Regions from separate parts of the Homo sapiens genome. Here all the other regions are reported to be linked to region 1. Evidence: microRNA targets listed by miRTarBase, many of them from high-throughput screens and not tested one by one. Region 1 holds a microRNA gene; each other region holds the end of a gene's coding sequence. Distances are between the middles of the regions.

The links. The annotated mature microRNA hsa-miR-30c-2-3p reads CUGGGAGAAGGCUGUUUACUCU and lies in region 1 at 3,463-3,484, shown strand. An mRNA with a match to its seed (bases 2 to 7 or 8) in the 3' UTR can be bound and repressed. Matches are read on the target gene's strand: a 7mer-m8 pairs with bases 2 to 8, a 7mer-A1 pairs with bases 2 to 7 and ends in A, and an 8mer does both.
Region 2: the mRNA of TRIM66 is a reported target of hsa-miR-30c-2-3p. Seed matches in the 3' UTR shown: 7mer-A1 at 2,740-2,746 and 7mer-A1 at 299-305.
Region 3: the mRNA of DNTTIP2 is a reported target of hsa-miR-30c-2-3p. Seed matches in the 3' UTR shown: 7mer-m8 at 2,789-2,795, 7mer-A1 at 3,361-3,367, 7mer-A1 at 3,504-3,510, 7mer-A1 at 3,832-3,838 and 7mer-A1 at 3,968-3,974.
Region 4: miRTarBase lists PTPRE as a target of hsa-miR-30c-2-3p. Seed matches in the 3' UTR shown: 7mer-m8 at 1,649-1,655.
Region 5: the mRNA of PTP4A1 is a reported target of hsa-miR-30c-2-3p. Seed matches in the 3' UTR shown: 7mer-m8 at 2,915-2,921.
Region 6: the mRNA of PIGR is a reported target of hsa-miR-30c-2-3p. Seed matches in the 3' UTR shown: 7mer-A1 at 2,067-2,073 and 7mer-A1 at 2,201-2,207.

The regions. Positions count from the first base shown.
Region 1 is chr6:71,375,515-71,380,447 of GRCh38, reverse strand. It overlaps MIR30C2 (microRNA 30c-2), which reads left to right and starts at 3,417; the gene lies at 3,417-3,488.
Region 2 is chr11:8,613,796-8,618,728 of GRCh38, forward strand. TRIM66 (tripartite motif containing 66) reads right to left here. Exons shown (of 25, transcript NM_001388022.1): 25 at 1-4,208. The coding sequence ends at 4,149. Among named protein-coding and RNA genes, the nearest start is that of STK33, 22 kb to the left of the region's middle.
Region 3 is chr1:93,865,941-93,870,873 of GRCh38, reverse strand. DNTTIP2 (deoxynucleotidyltransferase terminal interacting protein 2) reads left to right here. Exons shown (of 7, transcript NM_014597.5): 6 at 82-191; 7 at 930-4,590. The coding sequence ends at 1,023. Among named protein-coding and RNA genes, the nearest start is that of DNTTIP2, 11 kb to the left of the region's middle.
Region 4 is chr10:128,082,067-128,086,999 of GRCh38, forward strand. It overlaps PTPRE (protein tyrosine phosphatase receptor type E), which reads left to right. Exons shown (of 21, transcript NM_006504.6): 21 at 766-3,789. The coding sequence ends at 840. Among named protein-coding and RNA genes, the nearest start is that of AS-PTPRE, 22 kb to the left of the region's middle.
Region 5 is chr6:63,578,671-63,583,603 of GRCh38, reverse strand. It overlaps PTP4A1 (protein tyrosine phosphatase 4A1), which reads right to left. Exons shown (of 6, transcript NM_003463.5): 4 at 4,576-4,706; 5 at 4,273-4,347; 6 at 16-3,547. The coding sequence ends at 3,430. LOC128125822 reads right to left here. Exons shown (of 2, transcript NM_001415059.2): 2 at 16-4,933. Among named protein-coding and RNA genes, the nearest start is that of PTP4A1, 8.7 kb to the right of the region's middle.
Region 6 is chr1:206,926,578-206,931,510 of GRCh38, reverse strand. PIGR (polymeric immunoglobulin receptor) reads left to right here. Exons shown (of 11, transcript NM_002644.4): 10 at 1-14; 11 at 1,098-2,989. The coding sequence ends at 1,193. Among named protein-coding and RNA genes, the nearest start is that of FCMR, 7.1 kb to the right of the region's middle. RefSeq lists enhancers at 480-1,049, 673-1,173, 1,100-1,389, 1,860-1,909.

The DNA.
Region 1 (4,933 bases):
AAATACAAAAAATTAGTCGGGCGTGTTGGCAGGCGTCTGTAGTCCCAGCTACTCGGGAGGCTGAGGCAGGAGAATGGCGTGAACCCGGGAGGCGGAGCTTGCAGTGAGCCGAGATTGCCCCACTGCACTCCAGCCTGGGCGACAGAGCGAGATTCCATCTCGAACAAAAAAAAAAAAGGAGTAAAGCCCATTACTGGGCAGGGCATGAGCTGTAGAACATCCTTGTATACAAGATACATTAAGCTTTAAATCTGGGAACAGTGTTTTTTCTCCAGTGAATCATTCATGGCTGTAAAGCTGCTACATTTTAATTTTAAAAATGTAAGTTTTTAAATTAAAAACTTTACATACTGTAAAGTTGCTACATTTTAATTTAAAAAATGAACATTGGGAGTTGGGAAAAGCCACTGTGTATCCTGAAAGTTGATGTGTAATACTGCAGAATATTTTTAAATCAATGGATAAGGTTTTTTGATACAGAATGTGACAGATTTGATCAAATATAATCTACATTTGAAATAAATGTATTTTCATTCAGAACTAAAAATGACCAAAGGCTAGTTTATTGGAGATTAGTTTTATGTGACTAAAATGCCTATTACATCAGAAGCCCTACTGAAGCAAAAGAGAGTGGCTTTCACGTTACAAAAGGAACTTTTCAGACTTGACTTTAAGAAGTTAAAATCATTTCATGTAGCTAAAATTATTTTAGTGACTATTTAATAAGGTGTGGTTCTTTCCATGTAGAACATTTTAAGCTCTTACATAATTATTCAGTATTGATACCCACATTTTATGACCATTTTCTTTCATTCTTGTCTATTTTTAAACTGTTTACATAGATTTCTTCTCTGCATTTACTGTGTATCCTGGTTTTTCTTCACTTGAAATCCATCATGAAAATAAAATTTTAAAATAAGGCTGCCTTCATAAAAGGTTAACTTTCCAGGAGTTAATGCCATCATTTAAGGAGAGATTGCTTTCTCTTCTTAGCTATGAGTTCCTTAGAAAAGTAAAACAGCCTAACCTTGAATTTTGGGGGAATAAAAACAAAGTTTTAGAAACTGGTAAATATTTTTTATTTAGAGATTTTTAAAACCTGAATAATCATCTTAACATTGTTAACCCATTGTCAGGTGGTAGATGGCATCATTCATTCATTCATTCATTCATTCATCAAACCTTCACTGAGAACCTCCTTTAGTACCAGACAAACCCTGGATACATGTTGTGAATTTCTTCTGATGAAATGAAGTTAAGTTAAACGAAACATGGTGTTTCTTCCCTAGTAGAGAGATGGATAGGTAAACAAATAATTGTAATAAAGTATCAGTTCTGTGATCTAGGCATATGCAATTATGTGACCTAGGCACAGTATAATGGTGGTAAAAGGAAAAATGAACAATTCCTCCTCAGGTTGGGGGAGGGGTGTGGGTGTTAGGGATGACGCTGACCAGAGAGGATTCACAAGAGAGAATACTTGATTTGGGATTTGAAGACTGTATGGGCACTTGCCAGGTAGAAGAGTAAGCAGAAGTGCAGAAACAGAATAAAGAACAGGTTTGTGTGATTTAGTTCTTCAAGTGTTTTCACCCTTTCAGTTGTGACAGAATTCAGTATTCAATGAGCATGGGGTCATAACTTTGCAGCCCAGCCCATTCAAGTTATCATTCTTAGGGCTCTTTCCTTCTCCACTTCTCTTCCTATTCTTTCCCTCCTGCATGAAAGGCCTTATGAAGCCCAAGCCAGGCTTGTGAATTACCCATGACTTCTCCATCTCCACAGTGCCTCTCCCCTCAGCTACTCACTCACTGAATTCTGCTGTTCTTCTTGTCTTTATAATTTCTCATATTCATTTTCTCTGTGTTCTTACTGCCTCTTCCCTAATTAAGGCTCCCATGCTCTCCCTTACACTACTGCAGTGATTCTTTTCCTGTTTTCCTTACCTGCCACCTTAAAGCTAGAGTAAATTCTCTAAAGTACTGACATGGTCATCCCACTTGCCTGCTTACTATCTTTCACTCGTACCCATCGTTTGGAGATAATGCCCAAACCCTTTAACCTGGCACATAAGGACTCCCATCTTTCCCTTGTGTCTCTCCCCTTACCCTTCACCCACATGCATCTTTGACTCCACCTCTGCTGAATTCTTAAAGGCCTCAGCATACATTACCTTTGTCTTTCTTTCTCTATTGGATGACTGTTCTTTCTGGTACACTTTAAGCTACACTATCTTCTTCACTGCCCACCCCTTCCAAATTCCCATTAGCACCATCTTCACCTAGCTAATTTTATTCAGGCTTCAAGACTCAGCCTGGCTATTAGCCAACTCAGAAGTGTCTTTTGACCCATCATAACACTTATAGTAATGGTGTATGTGTCTGTCTTGCAAATTAAGCTGTGTCCTTCTCGAAGGTAGGGATGATACCCTTCATTTCTCATCACCTAGAATTTAAAACATTGCTGATATATGGCAGGCAGTCACAATTGTTTGTTGAATGAATGAATGAATGAATGAAATGAGTAAGATCCTGTAACAGTTTGGAATTATATGCCACCTGGGTTTACAGTGTAGTCTCTTATCAGGTAGGTTTGTTCTGAGATGTATAGTAATGATGACTTTCTTCTTCGCCCAAGTATTTTGTGTACCTTAGACCAGTTTAGCAAATGAAGTCCAAGAACTATTTGAATAAGTCATTCTTAGAAAATAACTTTAGGAAGCAACTGACTCCATTCATGTGTATGCCTCTAATTGTAGGTTCACTTCTGTCCGAATATGAATTTTTAAAATAATTTTAGCATTATATTAGCAATTTGCAATATACCATTTTTATGCATGTAAAGTTGTATTCTAACATATTTACTTTTTGCTCATTTGATTAAATTTATTACTGTGTATCCCATCATTAAGGTAACTAATTTTCAGTAATTAAACTGTTGGTCTTCTGTTTAGCCATTATTCTCAGTTCTGTGCAGGAGTGAGCTGAAACAAAGTTGTATAGCCCAGAGAGTGAGAAGCTGCATTTCATGTCTCCCAACAGTCAGAAAGGGATTATGTACTGTTTAAGGAAGGAGTTTGGCGAATATTTTGAAACCCTTTTGGGAAAGCATAGAATATTGAAAATCCAAAATTAACCAAATCCGTGAGTGTGCAAGCTCAAAGCTAGAGACCTTAGGAATATCTTAGGATGTGCAAAACAGGAAGAAAACAAGAACTGAGCAGGCAGCACTAAGTAAGTGTCATATAGCCTCCCCACCCACCCTTCCAACCCTACTCCTAAAAGAGCCATAATTTAGTCCCAAGTATACTTTTCTGATCTTTTCCTGTGACATATTATGGTATCTTCAAATGGTACTGGGTTTCCTGAGGCTTGTGCTGCTGACTGCCAACCCCATCCTAGAGAGCACTGAGCGACAGATACTGTAAACATCCTACACTCTCAGCTGTGGAAAGTAAGAAAGCTGGGAGAAGGCTGTTTACTCTTTCTGCCTTGGAAGTCAACTAAAGAGAAATGGATTTTGAATATTTCTATGTCTTAGAATTGATCCTATCCCGTGTTTGTTTCTGAGGTCAACTGTAAAAGGAAAAAAGGTGAATTGACTAAGTCATCCAAAGAAATGTAAGATAATCTATAATATCAGTTATATTTGAACTGTTTCACTTAGTTTAAAAAGAAAAAAAAGATTACCAAATACCCAAGTGACAAAAGTTCTGGTTAACTTGTATGAGGCTACATTTTGTGGGTTGCTGCAGTCTGATCTGTAAAAGCAACACATTACCTATACGTTAAGCTAAACATTTCTCCTTTAACCTGAGAGCATTCCACACTGAAGTCTGCTTTTCTTGAAGCAAAAATTCTAGTGTCCTTGGACTTGCTATTTTATCAGGGATCAAAGGCACCTTGGAGCCCCATGCTTTAGGAATTGTAATGGCAAACAATAAGGTCTGCTCTTTAAAGCTAGAATATAGTTACACATTTCAGGAAAAAATAGAATTGTTGTTGGAGGACGGGAGAGGAAGGAAAATGTAGAGGTAAGGGATGGGATGCAAGAAGTTAATTTTAAGAAAAATCTACAGAACGAACTCATAAGTTCAGCCTTAACCAGAAAAACTCTTTCATGTAAATCGTTTAAATCAAAGGTCTATTAAACATCTAATCTAGAATGTAACTTACCTGAAATTTGAGTCCATTGCTGATTTATTTAAAATTATTATGAAATAAGCCTTCTTGTTAAAGAGAATATTTAAATAAGGCATATTTTTATATAACAAGCCCTTAAGAAGTTAAATAATTAACTTAATGCTTCTATTAAAAATTAAACAAATCTGAACAAAATTACTCTAGTCTTGGCATATCAGCATATATCAGTCATTTAAACTAAAAGACACTCTACTACTTTAGAAGTATTAGAGGAGCTTTTAATTTTACCTCCGCACTGACTGTAGAGCCTAATACAATAGGAGTAATTGTTTCATATGAGTTTATAGAAAAAAAGTTTAAATACAATGACTTTAGCATGTGATTTCAGGGAAGTATTTGAACAGGCTGGCCTTGAAGCAGTGGTAGACACTGTTGAAGTGCCAGCTTGATTGAGTCATTTACCTTTTTAGGTTTGCCTACAGGCTTAAGAAAACCCTCTTTGAAACAATGCTCTACAGTCTTCTCAAAGAAATAATTGTTATAGATGTTTGAAATTTTGCTTTCTGCTAGGAGAGGCAGATAATATGGGTAAGGGGAAAAGCAACTCTAAGCAGCAGAGAATGATGCATATGCTTTGCCATAGCATTTTATTATTCTGCCTAAATTAAAAGGGGGGACATTCAAATATTCCAGATCTAAATTTATGGTTAACTTTTAGTCATGAATGTAGGTGTTTCAAAGCTTATTGAAATACATGCTGAAATTCATTCATCATTCAAGAATTATTTATT
Region 2 (4,933 bases), not on the chromosome of region 1:
GGAAGCTCTTGCTTTAGGGGCTGTCTTCTGTGAAGTAGACAGTGAGCTCAGTCATTTGTGGAGGACAAAGATGGAGGCATGGGTGGGGAAAAAAAAAGGGATCACAACAAGTTAAAGAATTTCCAGTCAACACTGAGAGCTCAACTGAGGCTGCCAACTGTGAATCTGTCATGCATAGCAGCCCAGGAGGTGGAAGCAGCAAATATGATGATGCCGAAAATGGAGAATGGCTGATAGTTTCAGCAAAATTGAAGGGGATACGCCTGGCGCAGTGGCTCACGCCTGTAATCCCAGCACTTTGGGAGGCCAAGGGAAGCAGACTGCTTGAGCCCAGGAGTGTTGATACCAGCTTGAGCAACATGGCGAAACTCCATCTCTACCTAAAGTAGAAAAATTAGCCAGGCATGGTGGCATGCACCTGTAGTCCCAGCTACTCAGGAGGCTGAGATGGGAGGATCACCTGAGCCCAGAAGGCAGAGGTTGCAATGAGCCGACATCATACCACTGCACTCCAGCCTGCATGACAGAGTGAGACTCTCTCTCTCAAAAAATAAAAAATAAATAAATAAATAAATAAATAAAGTTGAAGGGCATGAGAAAGTTCAGGATGCTGACAAAAACATCAGTGTGTGATAGGCTCTGGGTTCATGCTGGGGAGAGGAAGAAGTCCAGGAGAAAGTTAAAAGACAAGGAGAGGAGAGAGAGGGCTGAGGTCATGGAAATGGACTAAAGGAGCAGGGCAATTTTAGCAGTACTGAGGGATGGAGAAGAAGCCCAGGAAGGGGTGATCCAGAAGGAGCAAAGGCTCAATTCTGGCGTTCAGAAAGGAAGACTATAAGTGACTCCATGGAGTGAGAGAGGGAGCAGAACAGAGCCCAGGAACAAACAAGGAGGCGCCTCCGTCTTAGCAGCCAGGCAAGGAGCTGTTGCTAGAAATGGGTACAGGGAGGGAGCCAGAGTCCGCTGGTGGGGGATGGCAGGGACTGCCATGGAACAGAGCATATGGAAGGTATGGTTGCCACTCAGGTAGGGGTCCTAGAGGCAGGCAAGGTGTATAGTTAGCAATTGCTAGAAGTCAGGCAGGGCTAACCTAACCATGTTCTGTGGAAGAGTGCTCTGCAAGTTCATCCTGAACCAATTTTTTTTTTTTTGAGACGGAGTCTCGTTCTGTTGCCCAGGCTGGAATGCAATGGCATGATCTCAGCTCACTGCAACCTCCACCTCCCGGATTCAAGCAATTCTCCTGCCTCAGCCTCCCAAGTAGCTGGGATTACAGGCATGTGCCATCACACCTGGCTGATATTTGTATTTTTAGTAGAGACAGGGTTTCACTATGTTGGCCAGGCTGGTCTCGAACTGCTGTCCTTAGGTGATCCACCCACCTCAGCCTCCCAAAGTGCTGGGATTACAGGCGTGAGCCACCGCGCCCAGCCAAAAAATAAAATAAAATTTAAAAATCCTGAACCAATTTTTAACTAAAATCCCCTTGCATCAACTGAAGCCATTTTACTGTCTTATTTCTCAGCATACCCAAGAAGTCAATTTTTCCTCTAGGGCTGCATGCTGTCCCATAAGAATCTAGAACTCACCGTATTTCCACTGCATGATGTTGTCAAGGACAAAAGGACTTGGCTGACTTCAAAACTGGGCCATTATGGGAATAAGTCAAAAGCAGGATCAGCCCAAATGTTAATGAAGAGCCTCTGCAGGCAGTCACTTGGCTAGTAGGATTTTTTTTTTTTTAATTTCTAAGTCATGTTCTGGTTTTTGCATGCAAAAACAAAACAAAACCATGATTCAAAACACTGGTGGCTAGGTCTAAAGGAAAAGCCAGCGAGAGGCAGGTGTGTAAAGGGAGCCTCTCAGCATGCAGGCTCTCTACGATGAGAAGGGAGCATGTGTCTCTCTAGCACATTACTAAGACCCCCTCTGGCCCAGCAAGCTGATCCGTGAGCCCAGGAGGCCACACCCAAGCTGGGAGCCTCACTCATATAAGGAAAGCCAAGCTTTTAACAGGTATTTCTGCTTTAAATTTGTGGTCTCCAATTGCTCCTGAGGAAGGATCAGGTCTGAGCCTGTCACAACACTCACCAGTTGCCCAACACCAAGTACAACAAAGTTCACAGGATGGTGGGAATGTGGGCTGCACAAAGGAAAGATGACCTAGAGCAGGAATTAGTGACATGAGAACAGAGGGTACTTTGCCAAGCCAACTGAACAGAGAAGGAGATTCAAAAATTGAAAGGGAAATGACCAGACCCCAAACCAGAAAGTCATGTGAGTCTCAAAGGGCAGAAGCCTAAGTCCAAAGATTGCCGGACTAGTAAAGCATTCAAGACTCAGTTACCCCAAACTAGAAAACGGGATCACGGAAGCCCATCTGCTTAGAACGTGGCATGTGCTGCTGAAAGAATGGCAAGCCAAGGGGCATGGTTTGCTTTAAAGTGAAGATGATCTCTCAGGTTGGGTAGAGAAGGAAATGAGCAATACCATCAACTCACAAAGAGAGAAGAAATGTTTTCTAATTAAAAAACTGCTCATTAGCAAAGGCCCTACAAACAAGAACATCCTTGAACTTCATCTGTTAGCAAAAATAAAGCCATGACCTCAGACTCCCCTGAAATTAGCCATGCAATGACAGGACCAGGGAGAGCTGTCTCAGTCCTGGCCACTGACATGTCAGGTTCATAGCTCCCCCAACAATATGAGCAATGGGTTCCTTCTCAACCAAGCCCTTGCTTGGGAGGTAGCCTGACCTCCAGTATCCTCACAAACACCCTGCGAGGGCCATGCAGATGCATTCAGGATGCAGCCTCGAGCTCCTGTTCCCATGGCTTCCAGAATGCTTCTCTCTGCATTCTAGGAGAACTAAGGCTCTGAGGTTGCTTCATGGTCACCAAAGGACACTGGCTTTTTGCCTCTTGATTTTTCCCCCTGTCCACCTTAGACAAACTTCCCCCAGGAATGTCTAGATCTGGCCCCTGTTGGTCCCTGAGGCCTTCTCTAACCTCCAACAAAAAGGGCTGCCAGAAAAGTGTTGGCTTTTTTGGGGCTGTAGACAGCCTGGAGGCGGGCTGGTCAGAAGACTCACTTCTGATCTTTGGCTCATGAACTTGGAGAGGTTGAGAACTAGAATCTTTAAGCAGGAGGAGAGGCCCAGAGGAGTGAGCTGGTTGTGGGTTACTCTCTCCACCCATGGAACTCTGGACCTGAAGCAGACAGCAGCTGTCTCACAGTATTCACAAGCAGAACTCACGATCCATACCTCTGAATGAGGATGATGAAGGGTATGGCCACTGACAAGCACCAACAGTCACTTCTAGGAAGGCAGGTTCTCACCCTAAAGAAGTGTGATTAGCCCAGAGTAAGTAGCACAGAGGGCGGGCTCTGAAGTGGACATCTTACTAAGTCTGTAAGTGAAATCTGAACCAGAAGATTTAAGTGGTCTCTCCACAGCCACCCAGCTCAGTCAAGAATGTCACACCATCCACAGCATTTTCACAGCAGCCACCTATGTCAACATCAGGAAAGTGACTATGCAAAACAAATACCCTGAAAACCGTTAGAACCCAAATAGGCACAAATTGAGACCTATGGCCTCTAGAAGCCTCCACTAGTCTGCACATGGCAGGTGCCTCTATCCAGACAGGACAAGCAAAGGCAAACAGTGACAGTCTTTGGCTGTGCTGGGCCAGGGATCACAGTCCTGCCATATGTCTAAACCTCTCTCCCTTCTTTTACCCACTTCTGAGCCCAGGAGGAGTTCAGATGTATACATGGCTCCTGAGCCCTGGACACTAAAAGGTTAGACGGGTCTGCTTTCCCAGGCAGAAAAAAATTCACCAAGGAAAGTAGGTTTTCCCGAGCCTAACCAGGTGTGGTCTTGTCAAGTGGAGCCTATACATCTGATTACTCTGGTAATAATAAATACCTTCCTCTTTCCTGTTTATTACTGAAATCTTCTCTGTAGTGGATGTACTACGGCTCCCAAATAAATGCTGTAGATGCAAATGGCAAAGAAGAGCACTACACAGTTCAACAAGACTCATCTACCATCCACACTCTGAAGAGGATAAGCTGCAAGATGGGGAGGAATGGTCGACAGTATGGGACAACAGCTGCCAGAGTGCCCAGTCTCCTTTTGGCTCTCACACCTGAGAGATGCTGTTGGCCAGGCGAAATGACATTCTTTTTGCTCTTTCATTCTCCTGAAAGAAAAATATATATTTGGAATTAAAATAGCCAAATGTAGGATTTATTAACATGAAAAGGCTATGTCAAGATTGCAGTTCTGCCAAGTCAACGTATTTTATTCTACCCTAGGAATGCAGCAGTAAAACTTACTGAAGCCACTAAACATTGTATGCTAAGTATGGTAAACAACTGGGGATGGCTGGCCAGACCCTGGCACACAGTAGGCAGGCAAAATATTTCAGTGGAATTAAACAGCCCTGAATGGACATTTCTGGTCTACACAGGTGGGACCAGCCCAAAGATCAGAGGAGCTCTCTCTGCTGCAAGCAATACCTCTCCTTCCTTACCTACACCAAGGGGCTAAGAAAGATCCCTTCCTTTCTCTCTCAAACCCAAATAGAAACCAGGCACTAAGACCAGGTAATTCCCTTCTTAGGGGCATCACAATCACAGTGTGGAGTAACCAGCACCAAACTGGGAATCAGGACAACTGGTTTCTCAGCCCAGGTCTGCTGCTAAATGCTGGGTTACCCTGGGCAGGGACAGGCACCTTTCTGAGTTTCAAGTCTCGTGAGTAACTGGCATTGATGGGCCCTGTACTGCCCTGCCTTCCCTGGGGGCTAAGGGGCTGGAAGTGAGGGTTCGTTGTCACCACCATCTTTTTGCACCACCCGAACAGCTTCACCTTAGGTTCTGCTTGGGTGCCCCTCTGCTTGCCTGATCACCGCCCACCTGCTGC
Region 3 (4,933 bases), not on the chromosome of region 1:
CTAAATATAATTAGAGCTACACTGAAGTATGAAAGCATCTTGGCACTCAATGCATGACTTATTTCAATCAATTGTTCACAGATTGGAACCATTGTTGACAATCCAGCTGATTTCTACCATTCACGAATTCCCAAGAAGCAAAGGAAAAGAACTATTGTGGAAGAACTGCTGGCTGATTCTGAATTCAGAAGGTAAAGGAATTCATATTTATTTTATAATATGTATACTTTGCTTTAAAAATGTATAAACTTATAAATTTTCAAATAATTTAAAAATAACTCATTTATAATAACCCATAACATATTAACATGAATATATATTTTTATGAAAAATAATTTAGTGCAAATCTCTTTAATGTCTGGCTTAACTAAAGACAGAGGCTCATACCTGCTTCTGCAGATAACATACATCACGTAGCCCCTGGAAAACACTACACTCATGAGAGAACGAGGGTGAAAAAAGCGATTAATGCCTTAGTATTCTTGAGAAAATAGTTTTTACCTAATGAATCCCTTGAAAGGGTCTACTCCACAGACCACACTTTGAAAACCATTGGTCGCTTCTAAGAAATATATATATCATACTGTGCATTTTCAGGATAAGTGTGACTTTTTGTTTTGCTTAGTCCTGATTTTTGTGTTTTTATCCCTCAAAAATGTTTAAAGCATTTGATACAGCCTGGTGGATGGATATAGTGCATATATAGATCATATATGGATATATGGATAGATAGATGGATATAGTGCATATAGTAGGAAAGTCTTCCTACTACAGTTGCCATTTTTTCTCCCTAGATTGCAAGCAAGTGCTATGAGGTCAGAGACTATACTTGTCTTGTCCACCACTCCATTCCCAACTTTTACCCTAAGGTTATATTAACTTCTAATGTCTGATATATCAAACATAAAGTTCTGATTTTTCTTTTTCAGATACAACCGAAGGAAGTACTCAGAGATCATGGCTGAAAAAGCAGCAAATGCAGCAGGAAAAAAGTTCCGAAAGAAGAAGAAATTTCGCAATTAAGATTTACCAAGCAAACTGCAACATTTTACATTGCTCCTTTATTTACTTATTAAAGACGTTTGGAAAACTAACACCATCATCTAAATTAATTTACCATAGACTGGCCCTGTTCATACAGGAATTTGTATTTGGAAAAAGTTGATTTGAGAATCGATTACATGCCCTTAGAAAATAGGGGTGTCTAAAAGACCCACCCTGGTGTAGACTCTTTATGGGAAAAAAGGAAAAAAAATCTCAACCATTTTAAGATAACTGATGGTTTGTAAAGTTTTCAATGCTTAGTTATTTAAAGAAAATTTAATTAAAAGATAGGAAGTATAAAGTTTGCTAACATGTTCAAAGAACTTTAAAAAATGATCAAAGATATATAAACATTATTGTAATTAATAGGTAGTTTTATGTGTGTATGTGTGTGTGTGTCTGTGTAGGGGACGGGAGATGGTAGAGAGGCAATGCCCTATAGTTAGCTATAAAATTCAGATCCAGAAAGTTGGGATACAAAGATATGAAGAATATGACCTAGAAAGCTTGGGCAGAGGAGCTGTTTTCCTTGCTTGGCAACTGAAACAGGGAGGAATAATTGGTTTTTATCTAGATTTAAGTGTTGTGGTCCAAGTAAAACAGGATTAAACTATAATTTAAGTTGGCCAGGGTTTCTTCGAAGTTAACCCAGCTTACCTCTTCTCCAGTGGTACAGTATGCACCCTGGCTAAGCTGGTTTCTGGCACCCAAGGAGTGTTGGTCATTTCTGTTGATACTTGGTGAGTTGTAGCTTCCTTTATGTTACTATTCACTTTACCTCTATTTTTCCAGCATACTGCTTCCTTGAGATATCAGCAAATATGAAATCTTTTTTTTTTTTAATAATAGTTTTGGGGTACATGTGTAGAACATGCAGGTTACATAGGTATACACGTGCCATGGTGGTTTGCTGCACCCATCAACCTATCTACATTAGGTATTTCTCCTAGTGCTATCCCTCCCCTAGTCCCCCACCCACAACAGGCCCCAGTGTGTGATGTTCCCCTCCCTGTGTCCATGTGTTCTCATTGTTTACCTCCCACTTACGAGTAAGAACATGCAGTGTTTGGTTTTCTGTTCTTGTGTTAGTTTTCTGTTCTTGCTGAGATGATTTCCAGCTTCAGCCATGTCCCTGCAAAGGACATGAACTCATGCTTTTTTATGGCCACATAGTATTCCATGGTGTATATGTGCCACATTTTCTTTATCCAGTCTATCATTCATGGGCATTTGGGTTGGTTCCAAGTCTTTTCTATTGTGAACAGTGCCACAGTAAACATACTTGTGTATGTGTCTTTATAGTAGAATGATTTATAATCCTTTGGGTATATACCCAGTAATGGGATTGCTGGGTCAAATGGTATTTCTGGTCCTAGATCCTTGCGGAATCACCACACTGTCTTCCACAATGGTTGAACTAGTTTACACTCCCACCAACAGTGTAAAAGTGTTCCTAGTTCTCCATATCCTCTCCAGCATCTGTTGTTTCCTGACTTTTTAATGATTGCCATTCTAACTGGCAATGAGATGGTATCTCATTGTGGTTTTGATTTGCATTTCTCTAATGAGCAGTGATAATGAGCGTTTTTTCATGTTTGTTGGCTGCATAAATGTCTTCTTTTGAGAAGTGTCTGTTCATATCCTTCACCCACTTTTTGATGGGGTTTTTTCTTGTAAATTTGTTTAAGTTCTTTGTAGATTCTGGATATTAGCCCTTTGTCAGATGGATAGATTACAGAAATTTTCTCCCATTCTGTAGATTGCCTGTGCACTCTGATAATAGTTTCTTTTGCTGTGCAGAAACTCTTTAGTTTAATTAGATCCCACTTGTCAATTTTGCCTTTTGTTGCCATTGCTTTTGGTGTTTTAGTCATGCAGTCTGCCCATACCTATGTCCAAAATCTCATATTTACTGCTTGGAGTCAAAAGCTAGTAATAGCAGAACTGACAATAACATTCATAGTTGGAGTTAGGGAAGCATCTATGTCTGTTCTCTTTTATTTTAAAAAAAAACTACTTTTGTTTCTGGAATACTATGTTTTGCCTTCTACTGGATAAAATAAGGACCCAGTATGAGAGAATTGTATCCTTTAGTGCTTCTGGCCTTCTACAAATACCTGGATATTTAAATAATGGATGAAGTTATGTTTTGCTTTTTAATAAGCAAGTCTTTTGAGAAACAGGTTTTACTGACTTTGGCCTGTGTCACTAAACTCAGTTCACCTACTGGAACTTTTTTTTTTTTTTTTGAGACGTCTCACTCCATCACCCAGGTTGGAGTGCAGTGGTGCCATCTCAGCTCACTGCAACCTCCGCCTCCCAAGTTCAAGCGATTATCATACCTCAGCCTGCCAAGTAGCTGGGACTACTGGGCATGCCATTATGCCCAGCTAACTTTTGTATTTTTAGTAGAGATGGGGTTTTGCCATCCTTACCTCAAGTGATCCACCCGCCTCGGCCTCCCAAAGTGCTGGGATTACAGGTGTGAGCCACCATGCCCAGCCAACTGGAACTATTTGAAGGCTTTATACCAGAAAAGTATAAAGAATCCAAAGGGCTGCCACAGTCAGGTGTGCTGGTGAAAGAGACCTTCAAGATACCCCTGAGAAGATCTTGAAAGATTTCGAAAAGAATGCTGTATTTATACACCATCTGGCTCCAAGATGCTTTTTTTTTTTTTTTTTTTGAGAGACGGACTCTCGCTCTGTCGCCCAGGCTGGAGTGTAGTGGCATGATCTTGGTTCACTGCAACCTCCGCCTCCCGGGTTCAAGCAATTCTGCCTCAGCCTCCCAAGTACCTGGGATTAACAGGCACCCACCACCACACCCGGCTAATTTTTGTATTTTTAGTAGAGACGGGGTTTCACCATGTTGGCCAGGCTGGTCTTGAACTTCTGACCTCAGGTGATCCACCGGCCTCAGCCTCCCAAAGTGCTGGGATTACAGGCAGGAGCCACCACGTCTGGCCCAAAATGTTCTTAAAACAAAGTAGATGCTGTAAGACTACAGTTGATAAAGTTGGGCTCTGGGCTAGGTTCTTAGCATCCAACACAATCAGTTCTGTGTTCAGTGTTCTGCTGTATGATAAACCAACTGCTCTAGAGAAACACCAATATTCCTCTTCTGAAACCTGGGAAAATGTCTTTTTTGGGTCCCATAACTAGATGTCACAAAAGGAGTGGGGAGTGGGGAGGCTATATAAAAAAGTTCAACAAAACCTTAGTAACTGGTATACATTAATAGGATCCCATTCTTAGAAACAGCAAGTTAAAGAAAATACCATAATGGGAAAAAAAAGTTAACATTTCTGAGAGATGTACCAGGTATTCAGTCTCTCAGGCAGTGACAACTTGTTCAGAATAATTACCTACAATAGATCCCAAACCATTGAAAAATGCCTAATTGTTTACTTAATGGAATTTGTACTTACTATTTAATTAGATGAATATCTTTATTGAAAGTTTTCAGTAAGGGTTGCAACAAAAAGGGCTTTCTAATTAACCAATTCCCCAAGCATCTGTCTAATTAAAATGTAAAGTGCAATTATTCTCATTGTCACATAGTTTTTGAAGTGAAGAAAAATCTTCCAAGAAGTAGGATCAATACCATGACCTATAATTAAATGTCATAAGCGGATCAGTGTTCTATCACTGGAGAAATGAGACATCTCCAATGAACTATGAAATGTAAAATTAGGTAAGTTTGTGCATAGAGGATTTCTAGGAGGACATACAAGACATACCTTCAAATCAAGATGGCCCTGTAGTTCCTCAAGCTCAATTTTATCAATTCCAGTTACCCTCATTTCCAGTTCACTTTAGCGAATCACTATCATGGCCTTAGACTCGTTGTTTGAGAATTCAGTGGTCAAGATTCTTAACTCAGACTA
Region 4 (4,933 bases), not on the chromosome of region 1:
AAAACAATGTCCCTTTTGTACAGTAAATGTAGGCTTTAAAATAATCTAGATATGCATTTTATTTAACTTTTATAGATCGCTTTATGAAATTTATCTGGCAATGTTAGTACTCTGATTTTTTTCTCTTTCTTTTTTTTTTTTTTTTTTTTTTTTTTTTGAGACAGGGTCTCACTCTGTCACCTAGGCTGGAGTGCAGTGGTGCAGTGGCACAATCTTGGCTCACTGCAATCTGCCTCCTGGGCTCAAGGAATCCTCCTGTCTCCGCTTCCCAAGTAGCTGGGACTATGGGTGTGCACCACTATGCCCAGCTAATTTTTGTATCTTTTTTGATAGAGATGGGGTTTCACCATGTTGCCCAGGCTGGTCTGGAACTCCTGGGCTCAAGTGATCCTCCTGCCTCAGCCTCTCAAAGTGCTCTTATTACAGACGTTGAGCCATTGCACCTGGCCTGGTTTTTTGTTTTTTTTTTTAAATTCAAAAATAGTTGTTTTCCAGTTTCAATGTGAAAGCCACAGACATTTAACTCAGCCCATTAAATACACTAAGTTGAAATGTTAATACACTAACTGACACATTCTACGTAGAAAAACAGCTTTATTTGGAATTCTGCATGTGCCTAAAAACTAAATTACGATGTGCATAAAGGTATATGGTATTTTAATGAATAGTCACACTTATTTATGTCTTGTTTTTGAGTATTTCTCCTGATTAATCAAATATATTTTTGGGAATATCATTTTAATGTGTCCTTGTTTGTCTTTTCAGGAACAGTATGAATTCTGCTACAAAGTGGTACAAGATTTTATTGATATATTTTCTGATTATGCTAATTTCAAATGAAGATTCCTGCCTTAAAATATTTTTTAATTTAATGGTCAGTATATTTTGTAAAAATCATGTTAATTTATTTCATAGTTGACATTAATATCTTCCCTAATTTCTTTGTATATATTTTGTTATGCCTTAAAGGCCACCTGCTATACAGTTGTTAAATCTTAAATATGCTTTTTAAAAATTGGAATAATGTATTAAGGTCAAATAATATCCCATAAAATATATATTTCTGCTAATATTAGTAAATATCTTAATTTTTCATTAGATTCATATCATTTAATTTCACATATTCAACACCTTTAAATGTTGTAATCTTAATATGCGAAGTGTGCCTCTGCAAGATACTAACACAAAGCTCATGTTAAGAAAACAGTTGAGGACTCAGAAGTCAGTTCGAAAATGCACTTTCCTAACAGTGAATTCACAACCCTGAACAGCAGCATTTTTGGAAGGCAAACTGTTCGTGATGGTACAATGTAAATGGGGACTTCTGTAAAGTTCTCAGTTTCGGTCCATGTGGTTTATCTTTACATTTTAAAGATCAAAGAAGTCTTTACAACCTGAATCCAGGTCTAAAACACACTAGAGTAGCTGGTGACTATAAATAATATTTTAAAATGCTGTGTCTACACCATCAAGACTGTGTCTACACTATCTTGGCTGAACGAGAAGAGATGTAAATGCTGGGTGGTCCCGTTGACCCACGGCGTTGGGTACAACAAAACCAGCCATCGGAGTTACACCCCAAAGCACCATTTGCTGTCCAGCTGCCTGTCGTTTGGCCCAGACCACCCTCAGAAAAAAACCAGCTGCCTCTCCCATTCTCCCCTCCCGTTCTGCCACAGCGGCCTGGGCTGGTCCAGTGCTATGCCTGGAGGCTCAACACAAAACTTCCCATCCAAACATTCAGATGAACTGAGCGTCTTACACACGCAGTACAGAGGAGCACACATTAGGATAGAAACAGTAGAATAACCACGGGCAATTAAACTTTAAATTTTCTGAGCAGCATTTTGGTATTTAAACATTTCTTGTAAAAAGCTGAGACAGTTTGTAAGAAAAGAATCCTTAAAATCTAGATTTATACCATTTTTTAAAGTCCCACCTTTCAATGTTTAATAAAACAAAAAGAGAAATCCTTAATCTAAAAGCTAAATTATTTTTGAATGGAAATACTACTGAGACCATTGACACTGGATAACAGTAATGATCCCATTACCAGATAAGATTGACTGACGGGGAAAAAAAAAAAAAAAGAATGGGGTGTGAATGTACCAACACTGAATCTTACAGCAGTTATCTTTCTATGGCCATTAGGTACCTAGCAGATGTGCACAATATAAACAAAAAGATATCTGGCCTACCTTACTACTAAAAGCATTTAACACGTGCATTTTTGGTACTTTTTTTTTTGTTTTCTAAAAGCTACATAAAGGCCTTATTTGACATTTTCACTGATAACTGATCGCACCCTCATGTTGCAGTGTTCGTCCCCTATTCATTAACAGTGTGTGCAAATGCAACCCCAGGACACATTATTGTTCTGATAGATGCTCACAGGGAATCAAGCTTCTCGCCCACTCCACGGCTCTGAGCCCCATCCAAGGGCAAGACTTGGTGCCCAGCTGGAAGGACGAAAGCACACTTTGTGACCGCCATCCTCACCAGCTGCATGCCTGGGCTGCACACTGCTGAACGTGCTCCTCTCTCCTTCTCTGTACAATGATTCAGCATCTCGGCGGAAGAGGAAAATGGAGCTTTTTGAGGCTCGCCAGGTCCCTTTTGTTTTCACCATTAAAATTCCAAACCCAAAGCCTTTGTTTGACTGAAGGAGAAGAGAGGGAAGTAAGCTTCTGTTCAGCACCTGAACCCTAGAAAAAGAGCCAGTTTGCTACGATGAAGGTGACATTTCTCTGGTCATTTATTTGAGAGTTCGAAGTCAAAGTCGAGGGGCACCGGCTTTGGTTCATGTCTAGGAGCCCTCTGTCAGAATCCTTGAAGCCCTTTAATGGTCTAACTGGCATCTCTTGTATCAAGAAGTACCTTTAAGGTAGACCTTTTCAGGGTGCCCTCAGGAAAGGGCCCTGCTCATGTTTTTTTCCTGTCCCCTTAGACCAACCCCAGGTGTCCACTGCAGGGGTTCTGCCTGTTCCCAAACTTTTTCCATTCCAGGAACAAAGGAGAAGCCACTTTCCCCAGGACGCAAGACTCTCCCCTCCACTGTCCGGGACAGCGTTCGCCCTTTAGCGGGGAGGTCATTACAGCCTCATGGCCTCTACCAAGGCCCCAGATCACAGGATCTCCTGGGCCTTGGAGCACCTCACGCTGGGGGAATCAATCCCTGAGGGACTCAGAATCTTCTCCGTGCAACCTGGAAAGTTCATCTCTTGTTTCCTTCAGTCAAAGAAAGTCCATTGTACATAACAAAACAGCCCCCAAACAGCCCAGTGCCGACACCATTGTTCCTTTCACACTTTCCTTTGTTGCATGCAGTTGGGTTCAAATGCCAAATAGTGATTAGAAGACGACCATTCTGATCTGTGTGTGATCTGGTCACTATGTGACTGCCTTTACGGTTTCTCTCCATGTGCTATATGAATGAAGAATGCATACCAGTGTTTTAAAAGGTATTTTTATGTGTTTTTAAACACTTTTTTAAATGAGCCTGACACCTGTGTTTCAGCATTTGGAGACATCCCCATGTTATTCTTTTAAGTGTATAATTACTGATACTTTTTTGTTTGTTTGTTTAACTAAGTTGTGTTTAACTTATGTGCAGTCTTTATAATGTATGTATGTTATTACAGTTTCAACTATCATATTTTCTTTGATTACATTTATAATTTGATCTTGCTCTGATTATAATGCCAGTGAATGTTGCTGAACTCTTTGTATATGCAAATTGCAAGATTTAAACCATTCTGATGCAAGGATAAACCTTTACTTTGACTACCAGCCTGTGTTTTTGTCTTTAAATCTCTTAATTTCATTCCTCTGCAAAAAAAAAAAAAAAAAAAAAAATCGCCTGCTGTGAGATGGTGTTTGCTGTTGTGGGCCCTTTTGTTACCAGTTTCTCTCTATGGGTCTGTGGGTCCCAATGTTCCATCCTAGACAAGCAGCATCCACTCTGCTGTGGATGTGGTCTTGGCCCTTCCCCTGGGGTAAGCAGACCTGGATACATGAAGGTGCAGGCACAGCTGGACACAGTGGGGAGGGGCAGAGGGATCCAAGGAAAAGGAGGTATGGAAGAGGCATAAAGGAAGTCACCAACTGGGCCTCCACCAGGGGCCAATGAACCCAAATAGCCCTGCCTGAGCCCAACGCCTCTGAAGGAGCTGAGGTCTGCAAAAGTACGCTTGCCAGACCAGCCTCAAAGGCAGCTACTATCAACAGAAATACACAGATAGGACGCTGAGTGCTGAGGGACCTCAGGAGAGACAGACAGGTAGCCAGGGGCACCGATTAGTGTGTGTGTCTGAGCAAGCCACTCAGAGGAGCATTACTGAGACCACACTGGGAACTCTACTCTGCAGAGATGTGCGAGGGGCCTCCCCACATCTTCTGCATGAAGGAGCAGGATGCTGCAGCACTGACCCACAGCTCTCGCCCACCAGGTGGAAAGTTTGTTCCAGGGCTGTCAGCTCCCTGGCACATGCATGTCCCACGTGTGGGCCTACTGTTGCCAAAATCAGAGGAACACCCAGGGACAGTGGCGCACAACATCAAGGCATCTGCTGTGGTCACCAAGCTCCCAAGCTTGGCCTCTAACAGCTTGCATATTGGGCGTGGCAGCTGTGTGTCAGTCGGGAGCAATGTTCATCCCTGGGGGCCCTCAGGCCATCTGCTGGTTTGCTGGGAGGGCAGCTTCAGGGCCCAAGACAGCCATGCCCCAGCCAGGGCTCACATTGCCACTTCCACATTCAGTGCCCACAGCTGGTCTCCCACTTGGCCCAGGGTCTAACAGAGCCAACTGCCCCTCGTCTCAAAGGACGGGGCAATACCAGCAATATAGGGAGACATGTTTGTTACAAACATTCAAACCAAACAGAAACACACCAAGAGCATTTAGCCCTTTTCCTAATTCCTCTCCCCATCTCAA
Region 5 (4,933 bases), 7.8 Mb from region 1:
AAATAAAATCATTAATAAATGGTAGCTATCAATTTATTAACTGGTTACTGCGGCAATATATATAATTATAAAATCACCATCAATCCTTTCATTCATACGTTAACACATATCACTGGTTTAATTCATTGAAGGCAAATACAAGTTTTTCCCTTACTTTCCTTCCAAGATTCCACTTAGGCTGGTTACCCCAAACGTAATGGAGAAACATTAAATGTCACTTTTAAACCACTTTTAAACCAGTCTTTAATTTTCAATTCAGGTGTGAGGCACATATATACACACAAACATATTAATTTAAGGAAGCAAGAATGTAGAATATTAACATGTATGGCAGACACTACTTCATGTATTTTGTTTAAAACTTAACTTTGAAATAACTTCATTGTTTACATGTAAAAGAAAAATATCATTCACTTATACTTCCACTTCCCTTTAAAGTATTCTCAAATTATATTTCCTGAAACTCCAATAGAAAGCATTCTCTCTTAATCATGGCAACGGGTCGGGTACTCATTGGTGACCAAAATCTGGTGACACCATCTTTTATGTTCTTTGCCATATTCTTAAATGCCTGGCAAACAGTAGATATTTACCAGATGAATATGACATTAAAAAAATAAATTTCAAGAGATTGAGATTCTTTAGCCAAGTTGAGGGACTACATCATTTTGAAGCACTCTAGAAGGGGGATGTGATTAAATGTGACTGCATGCCTGGGCTGGCTGCTTCTAGGTATAGAGCTGTGTTAAGGCGTGGGAATAGGAGAGCAATGCCCTAGGGAAAAGAGGGCACTAGGGGAAACAATGGTTGCAGTGCACTGCAGAATGACCAATGGCACCTACTTCCAGAGTTTTCCTTCAACTAAAAAGAGATGGCATTTTCTTATGATTCAGTAACCGCATTACTTACATCAACATTATGGTTGCTATAGACAAGCCTAGGTAGCTAGCCTCTATTTACATCATCCCACTAAGGGTATCCAAACCCAAGTAACCAAATTTTAGAACACTATCAGATAGTTTCCTGCATTCAAGACTTCAACTCATAACTCTTTGAACTCTTATTAGATATAAGGAATCTAAGATGTATTATAGGCATTCCTATAATTAGCCATATTTACAAGATACAAAATATTTGGATAAAAAGCAAATTTCATCACATCGTATAATGTACAGATAAGGTTTATAAAGTAAATTAATTTATTTTTAGCACCATATATACAATCCAAACACTGCAAATTAATTTCTTTTCAAACTCAAAAGATAGTTTTCATTAATCATGATGGCACATCCTCTCTCTCAATAAACGCAAATGCTGTTTTATGGGCTGTGTGGTAATAGTTTAACATTTAGTAATTGATTATATAAAATTATGTTCTCAAGACTAGGCTGCATTTCCTTTAAAAAAAAAACAAAACCTCAGGTTAAAAATTAGCCAAAAATTTGTGATTACTATCACAAATAATCCAAGATTTAAATAACCAAGGGCCTCCAGAGGCCCCTGTTCTTCCTTTTGCCCTGTCTAAAATCCAATGAAATATATTAAGTGTTAAACTGGTATGAAGAGGTGGAACTAAATTCTTTGAAACACAAGGTGGAGTATCACTTTTTACTTAAACTTTGAGTCCTTTACATTTATAACTGCTATTCAAAAAAAATTAGACAAAGACATCTAGATTTAGATTAACGTGATCAAAGGGATTATTGTGGATCATTAAAGGAAACTTAACATTAAGCCTTCATGTACCAAATACTAATATTTAAATTAATTTCAAAATCTATAAAGGTATGTAATTATTAATTTGCAAAGGAGAAAACTGAGGCTCAGAAGTTGCACAAAACCATGAACTAGTGGAACTGAGCTTTACAAACCAAGGCTGTCCTCTACTATACATTATTTCTCCTCAGTACACAATAATAAATTGGTTCAAAATTATCTAGACCTTTAAAAAGTATATAATGGAAAGTGCTTTTAGTATTAAAGTTTTCATGAATGACCCTAACAAATTTTGTCTAAAAGTTTACTAAAATGCTGACATCATTTATAATCCTTCATTTATTTGTAAAAAGATGAGGACACACATTAAGTGAAGTGCAATTCATTTTGTCTTCTACAAAATAAGTTAATTTTAAGCAAACCAATCTCAATGATGATAAATGCATGTCATTATTTATTTAGATGTTTCAGCTCTCGCACTAAGTTTTTACAAGCTGGTGAACACTGACAAAATTATTTCTCCCACAGAACTATAACCACACATCCCCAGACAGTATAAATATATGGTTGAACTAACATTAATACACATCACCATTTTATCAATTACATAATAAAACAAATTGTCAAGTATCCAAATATTAAGTTACACAGCTCAAAAGGCATATAAAATATTAGATGTCTGCTCAATTCATTAGCAGAAACCCATTTCTTTTTTTGCAAGAGAGGTTGGGAAGGAAAAAAAAAATCACACTTTCAAACAAAAATAAGTTGGTAAACACACTTCTGATAAGTATGGGAAAAAAATTACAAGAATTTCAGGAAGTTTATGATTACAATAACAAAGCATCTCTACCTTTTAAAAAAATATTTTACTAAATTAAAGAGCATATTCTACATGTTTGCACAAGACAAAGGCAACATTTTGCTAAAAATAATTAATAGCCCCCTCCCATTCTTTTCTCAGGCCCTCCCTGTTAAGTTGCACCTCAGAGTGCAAACATTAAATTAATGTAAGGCTTTTTTGTCTGAAGACATTAAAGACATGTGCTTCTGTACAACGTAGATTTTCAAAATGGAGGTTTTTTTAATACAGCACAAAGTGAGATACATGGAAACACGTAAAATAATCACTGTAAGACTTGGTAAAAAAAAAAAAAAATCAATGGTTAAGCAAACCTGACGTATATTGGTATGAATGTGGGAGATGTAAACATAAAGTGAGCAGGCAAATAACCATGTAGGCCCTACTTTCAATGTTTGAAATGATTGAAGGAATAAACCACATAAGGTCTAGTGTTCATAGTTCCTGGGATTTTACTTCTGTATGGTACTAAAAATATACAAGTATTGTGCTGGGTATTTTGGCACCTAATCTTCCTAAATTTCTTATGTATTGATAAGATTCTGGCATGGGAATAGATTTAACAAGTCATAACTCAATACTGCATGATTTGGGGAAAGGTCAATTGATACAAATGACAAGCACATTTTATATGCTGACAGCAAGAATCTTTTGCCAAGTATCCAAATAGGTTGACTGTAACCCAAATACAGAGGTTGCCAAATCTGTCTAGCTTGAGGCCTGGTAAAACTGCCTTTCAATACTCCTATGGAAGCTTCATTAGACTTACTAAGCCAACATGTTGGCTAATATGTATAACAAATTAGGCCCTATCTCAAGTTCCACTTCCAGTAGCATTAGGCACCCCAATTTTATTGAATGCAACAGTTGTTTCTATGACCGTTGGAATCTTTGAAACGCAGCCGCATTTTAGGACGATACTTCTCCAAATACAGAAGTTGCTTGCTGTTAAAAGCTCCACGCCGCTTTCTGGGAGGAAAAAAAAAAAAAAATGAAACAAGGCAAAAGCCCCCTACAGTAATATTTAGTGTCTTATAGACAACCATCACCTCTCTTGTGGCAATTTATCTTTTGATTAATTAGGCTGTGACCTGATGCAGAAAGGAATATGAACAGGCACATCAGTGTAAATGGAAAAAATCATAAAAAGTTAATTTTCTTTATATCTTCGTTTGAGTATTGGTTACAACAGTCGACTCACAAATCCATTTACACGTAAGTCCACGAAAAGACAAAACTAATTTATAGTGAAGTCAGAAGTTGCCTCTGGTAGCAGGGAAGATGACTACAAAAGCCACAAAGGCATGTTCTACAGCACTCAAAATATTCTATGTGTTGTATTGGATGGTTAATTTGGCTGTTATTGTCAACTGGTCTCCTTTGGAGACCTGTGCATTTTATTGTATCTTTAAATGTATCTTAATTATACCTCAATAAAAATACAAAATAACCAACATATTCAATCAAGTATTTAAAGCAAAACAATAATTCAAAAACTCTTGTTGGATTAGAATCTTAGTAATATGAGCAACTGCATGAAATGCAAAAAAGAATGTAAGATCTTGATTTCCTGGTTTTAATACTATCTCAAAAAATAATCATAATGATTAAATGGGCTATTAGACTATTAAACTCACTGACACTCAACAAGGAAATGAAAGAGAGTACAAATGAAAAGAGAATCCATTACTTACTGTCTTATGAATTGTACTGCATCTTCGTATTTCATTCCACCTTCAATTAATGCTAGGGCAACAAGTACTGGAGCTCTGGTGAGGTAAGAATTTTGATAAATAGTTTTTTCAAAATCAGATCTTTGTAAATTTATTTCTCCAAACATTCCCCAACTCAGAAGTATTATCTACCACCCTTCCTATTTAAGTAATACCTATGACAAATGTTGACTTTATATTAAAAAATTATAAGAATTTTTCAAGTTTCTGTATTTTCATTATCAATAGATTTTTACCTAGAATCAAATTGATAAATTCATTTACCTCCCAAGGCCTGCAACGCAATGAACAGCAATACAACAACCAGGTTCTTCACGAAACTTAATTTTCACAAGACTTAACCAGTCATCAACAATCTGGTTGGATGGTGGTGCACCATCATCAAAAGGCCAATCCTAAGTCAGAAGAATATTTAAACATTTTAGATCATTAATATAAACACTGTAGTAATAATTCTAAATTTCTAACATGGAAATGTTTTCAAAAGCATTCTCATTTTAATGTTTAATCAAATCTTATTAAACCCTGTTGTCTACCAAATGTGACTAAATGCTCAATCTTTACAAAAATGTTTCACAACTTCAAATCCTTGCTTAGCTTTTCACCTTTATTTAGAAATTAA
Region 6 (4,933 bases), not on the chromosome of region 1:
AGAAGGCAAAAAGGGTGAGGAGGAAGAAGGAAGCCCCACTACATGACAAAGAAATGCAGCATGAGGGGATGCAGTTAGACTTCAGAAAGAACTACCTCAACATGGGGGCCGATCCCAGAATAGGGAGGATGATATAAATAGTCCTCAGGAGTCCTCAGGACTTTTTGAGGAAGAACTATATCTTACTGGTTGTGGGATGCTGATGTGGATAAGGCCCAGGAAGGAGGTGAGCTATATGATTAGGCTGTAAAACTGCAGGAGAGAGGCAGGCCAGGAGATGAGGAAAGCAGGTGCATAAAAGATGGGAAGCTACAATGCCAAATGCTGGTGATTAAATGGATGCTCTTCCTGGGTTGGGGGACCCAAGGACCTCAGGCCACACATCCTCCCTTGAGGGTTTGCTCAGGACCAGCTTTTTGCCTGGGCCTAGGAGACATTTGCTTGCGGTGGGCAGTTTGAGGCTAGAAGCCCCTGCTCACTTCTCTTGAAGCCCCACCAGAGGCAACTCCTGCCTTGGGTGCCATATACCATCCCCTCAATCTGCCCTAGGACTCAGGGGACCAAGAAAAATAACATCTCATGCCTTTAATCCCGAGGTGAGAGTTTTTGTTGTTGTTGTTGTTGTTTTTATCATATCTACTTTTTCTTGAAACATCTCTGGCATTTAGCAAAGTTAGAACGAGTTATTCCTGGGACAGCCTTCCCCTTTAACTTTGTGGTGCCAAAAAGCTACCTGTCTGGGCTGGTGGAGAAAGAAAAACATACACCACCGTGGTTGACCCCAGCCTAGGCCACCTTGCCCGTGGACTGTGTGGGCAGCTTCCGGGGACAGGCCCGGGCAACAGAGGCGGTTCCACTCCGTGTGTCAGAAGGAGGTAGTGAGACAGAAGAAGATATTTTTAGAGGCTGCAACTTTCCATTTCTCAAAATGCGTCCTTCTTGGTGAGCATGGGGGCTGGGATGAGAACAGTGGGCCCCAAAGGCTTGTGTTGCTTGGACCAAGATCACGAATTCAGGACATTAAGCACCTCCCCTCCCCTGACTCCACCCACTGAGCCAGTGCCCCCAACACTGATGCCTCTCCTCTTGCCCCTTAGTCATCCAAGGAGGAAGCCGAGATGGCCTACAAAGACTTCCTGCTCCAGTCCAGCACCGTGGCCGCCGAGGCCCAGGACGGCCCCCAGGAAGCCTAGACGGTGTCGCCGCCTGCTCCCTGCACCCATGACAATCACCTTCAGAATCATGTCGATCCTGGGGCCCTCAGCTCCTGGGGACCCCACTCCCTGCTCTAACACCTGCCTAGGTTTTTCCTACTGTCCTCAGAGGCGTGCTGGTCCCCTCCTCAGTGACATCAAAGCCTGGCCTAATTGTTCCTATTGGGGATGAGGGTGGCATGAGGAGGTCCCACTTGCAACTTCTTTCTGTTGAGAGAACCTCAGGTACGGAGAAGAATAGAGGTCCTCATGGGTCCCTTGAAGGAAGAGGGACCAGGGTGGGAGAGCTGATTGCAGAAAGGAGAGACGTGCAGCGCCCCTCTGCACCCTTATCATGGGATGTCAACAGAATTTTTCCCTCCACTCCATCCCTCCCTCCCGTCCTTCCCCTCTTCTTCTTTCCTTCCATCAAAAGATGTATTTGAATTCATACTAGAATTCAGGTGCTTTGCTAGATGCTGTGACAGGTATGCCACCAACACTGCTCACAGCCTTTCTGAGGACACCAGTGAAAGAAGCCACAGCTCTTCTTGGCGTATTTATACTCACTGAGTCTTAACTTTTCACCAGGGGTGCTCACCTCTGCCCCTATTGGGAGAGGTCATAAAATGTCTCGAGTCCTAAGGCCTTAGGGGTCATGTATGATGAGCATACACACAGGTAATTATAAACCCACATTCTTACCATTTCACACATAAGAAAATTGAGGTTTGGAAGAGTGAAGCGTTTTTCTTTTTCTTTTTTTTTTTTGAGACGGAGTCTCTCACTGTCGCCCAGGCTGGAGTGCAGTGGCGCAATCTCGGCTCACTGCAACCTCCGCCTCCCAGGTTGACACCATTCTCCTGCCTCACCCTCCCAAGTAGCTGGGACTACAGGCGCCTGCCAGCACGCCTGGCTAATTTTTTGTATTTTTAGTAGAGACAGGGTTTCACCGTGTTAGCCAGGATGGTCTCGATCTCCTGACCTCGTGATCCGCCTGCCTCTGCCTCCCAAAGTGCTGGGATTACAGGCGTGAGCCACCGCGTCCGGCCTCTTTTTTTCTTTTCTTTTTTTTGAGACAAAGTCTCACTGTGTCACCCAGACTGGAATGCAGTGACACAATCTCGGCTCACTGAAACCTCTGCCTTCCAGGTTCAAGCTATTCTCATGCCTCAGCCTCTCAAGTAGCTGGGACTACAGATGTGGGCCACCATGTCTGGCTAATTTTTTTTTTTTTTTTTTTTTTTTGTAGAGACAGGGTTTCGCCATGTTGACGAGACTGGTCTCGAACTCCTGGCCTCAAGTGATCTGCCGCCTCAGCTTCTCAAAGTACTGGGATTATATAGGCATGAGCCACTGAGCCTGGCCCTGAAGCGTTTTTCTCAAAGGCCCTCAGTGAGATAAATTAGATTTGGCATCTCCTGTCCTGGGCCAGGGATCTCTCTACAAGAGCCCCTGCCCCTCTGTTGGAGGCACAGTTTTAGAATAAGGAGGAGGAGGGAGAAGAGAAAATGTAAAGGAGGGAGATCTTTCCCAGGCCGCACCATTTCTGTCACTCACATGGACCCAAGATAAAAGAATGGCCAAACCCTCACAACCCCTGATGTTTGAAGAGTTCCAAGTTGAAGGGAAACAAAGAAGTGTTTGATGGTGCCAGAGAGGGGCTGCTCTCCAGAAAGCTAAAATTTAATTTCTTTTTTCCTCTGAGTTCTGTACTTCAACCAGCCTACAAGCTGGCACTTGCTAACAAATCAGAAATATGACAATTAATGATTAAAGACTGTGATTGCCACCAACGAGGCTCAGACTGTATTTGCACCCAATACCTTCTGTCTCCCAGACAGCCTCTTCAGAGCTTTTCTTTTCTTTTTCTTTTCCTTTTTTTTTTTTAAGACAGGGCACTCTGTTGCCCAGGCTGGAGTGCAGTGGTGCAATCATGGCTCACTGCAGCCTCAACCTCCTGGTTTCAAGTGATCCTTCCACCTCAGCCTCCAGAGTAGCTTGGACTACAGGCGTCCACCACCACACTGGCTAACTTTTTGTATTTTTTTGTAGAGACAGAATTTCGCCATGTTGCCTATGCAGGTGTTGAATTCCTGGGCTCAACTGATCCTCCCACCTCTGCCTCCCAGAGTGCTGGGATCACAGATGTGAGCCACTGCATCTGGCTGCCTTTTGCTTTGGTCCCAATTTTAGGCACCCTGGGACCCCCTTGTCTGTTAAGATCATTCCTAGGTTCTGGTGCTGAACCATGTCATATCCTCTAAGGGCTGCCCAAGCTGTCTGTTGGCAGCTAGCCCCCCATCTCACCCCTAGACTCTTCCACAGGGCTTCTGTGTGTGGAGAGTTCTCTCTGCAAGAGAGTTCTCCCCAGTCTGCCATCCTGCCTGATGTGAACCTTTGCTTCCACCCAGGCCTTAAACATAATGCTGTGGATGCTATGAGCTTCCCAAGCCTACCTTTTCCTGGGACTCAGACTTCAGGCCTCCTTTGGTGTTCCCTCCAGCCCCACTAACTGCAGTACTCCAGTCTCAGTTCCCAGGCCCTGACCTGGGTCAGAGTCTTGGGCTTCTATCCAGCCAGAAGAGGGGGCATCAGAAATGTTTTTTTCTTTCTTCTGTGATGGGGATGCATACCTTCTGGAATGACAGCAAATCGTTCCAGGAGGATCAAAATGACAGGTGTGTCAGAAACTACCACTGTCTTACCCTTCCAGGAAGCTGTTCTCTGACTCACCAAAGGGCCATGTTTATGGTAGAGGATTAAGATGCAACTTCTGTACGCATTGCAATAACCAGCGAGCCAGTCCTGAACTCGTGTAGCCTATCCCAGCCCTTTGAAGCAAAGGTCAAGAAATGTCACTAAAGCCAAAAGCGATCTTATATTATTCCTAAGTGATATTGTCAGTAAGGCTCAAAGTCCATCTGCTCCCCGTGTAGCACAAGAAACCCTTTTAAATAAGGAAGCTAGTTCATAGGTTCCAGTGGACGTGAGTTTGGAGAGGATATGATTCAGCTTAGTATAGGGGAGTGACCATAAACTGCAGGATTGATGATGATAAACCAATTAGCAACGGTCAGTGGCCCCGAGCATTCAAGGAACTGTTTAAACATTTGATGACAAGGAAATCTTTCCCAAGTTCTTGAATTATCTTAATGTTTATTCTTTTTTAAAAGTCCAATATGTAAAGACAGGACTATTATTAAGGCCCAACAGGACTATTATGAAGGCCCAACTATTATTAATGCTCAACCACTGCTGGGCATTATTAAGGCCAAACAGTGGTTAGGAATTTTTTTTTTTTTTTTTTTTTTTTTTTTTTTTTTTTTTTTTTGGTAGAGACAGGGTCTTGTTTGTTGCCCAGGCTGGTCTGGAACTCCTGGCCTCAAGCAATCCTTCTGCCTCTGCCTCCCAAAGCATGGGGACGACAGGCGTGAGCCACTGCACCCAGCCAGGAACTTGTTTATAGCAATTGATTTTGTTTTGTAAAGCTAAAAAATAGATCTCTGATTTAGACTTTTCCAAAACTCAAGACAGAACATCTCTCCTAAGAACATTAAACAGCAGCGAGAGGAACTGACTGTGCTATGGTCTATGAAACCGGTCCCCCAGGCAGAGAAACAAGTAGAGTTTCCCACCCCATCCCTCCCAGCTTTCCTAAAATAATTATCTCTACTAAGGAGTCTGCGCAACAAAAATAAGAGATCATCTCAAAAAGGCTACATGTCTAAGTGGACAGT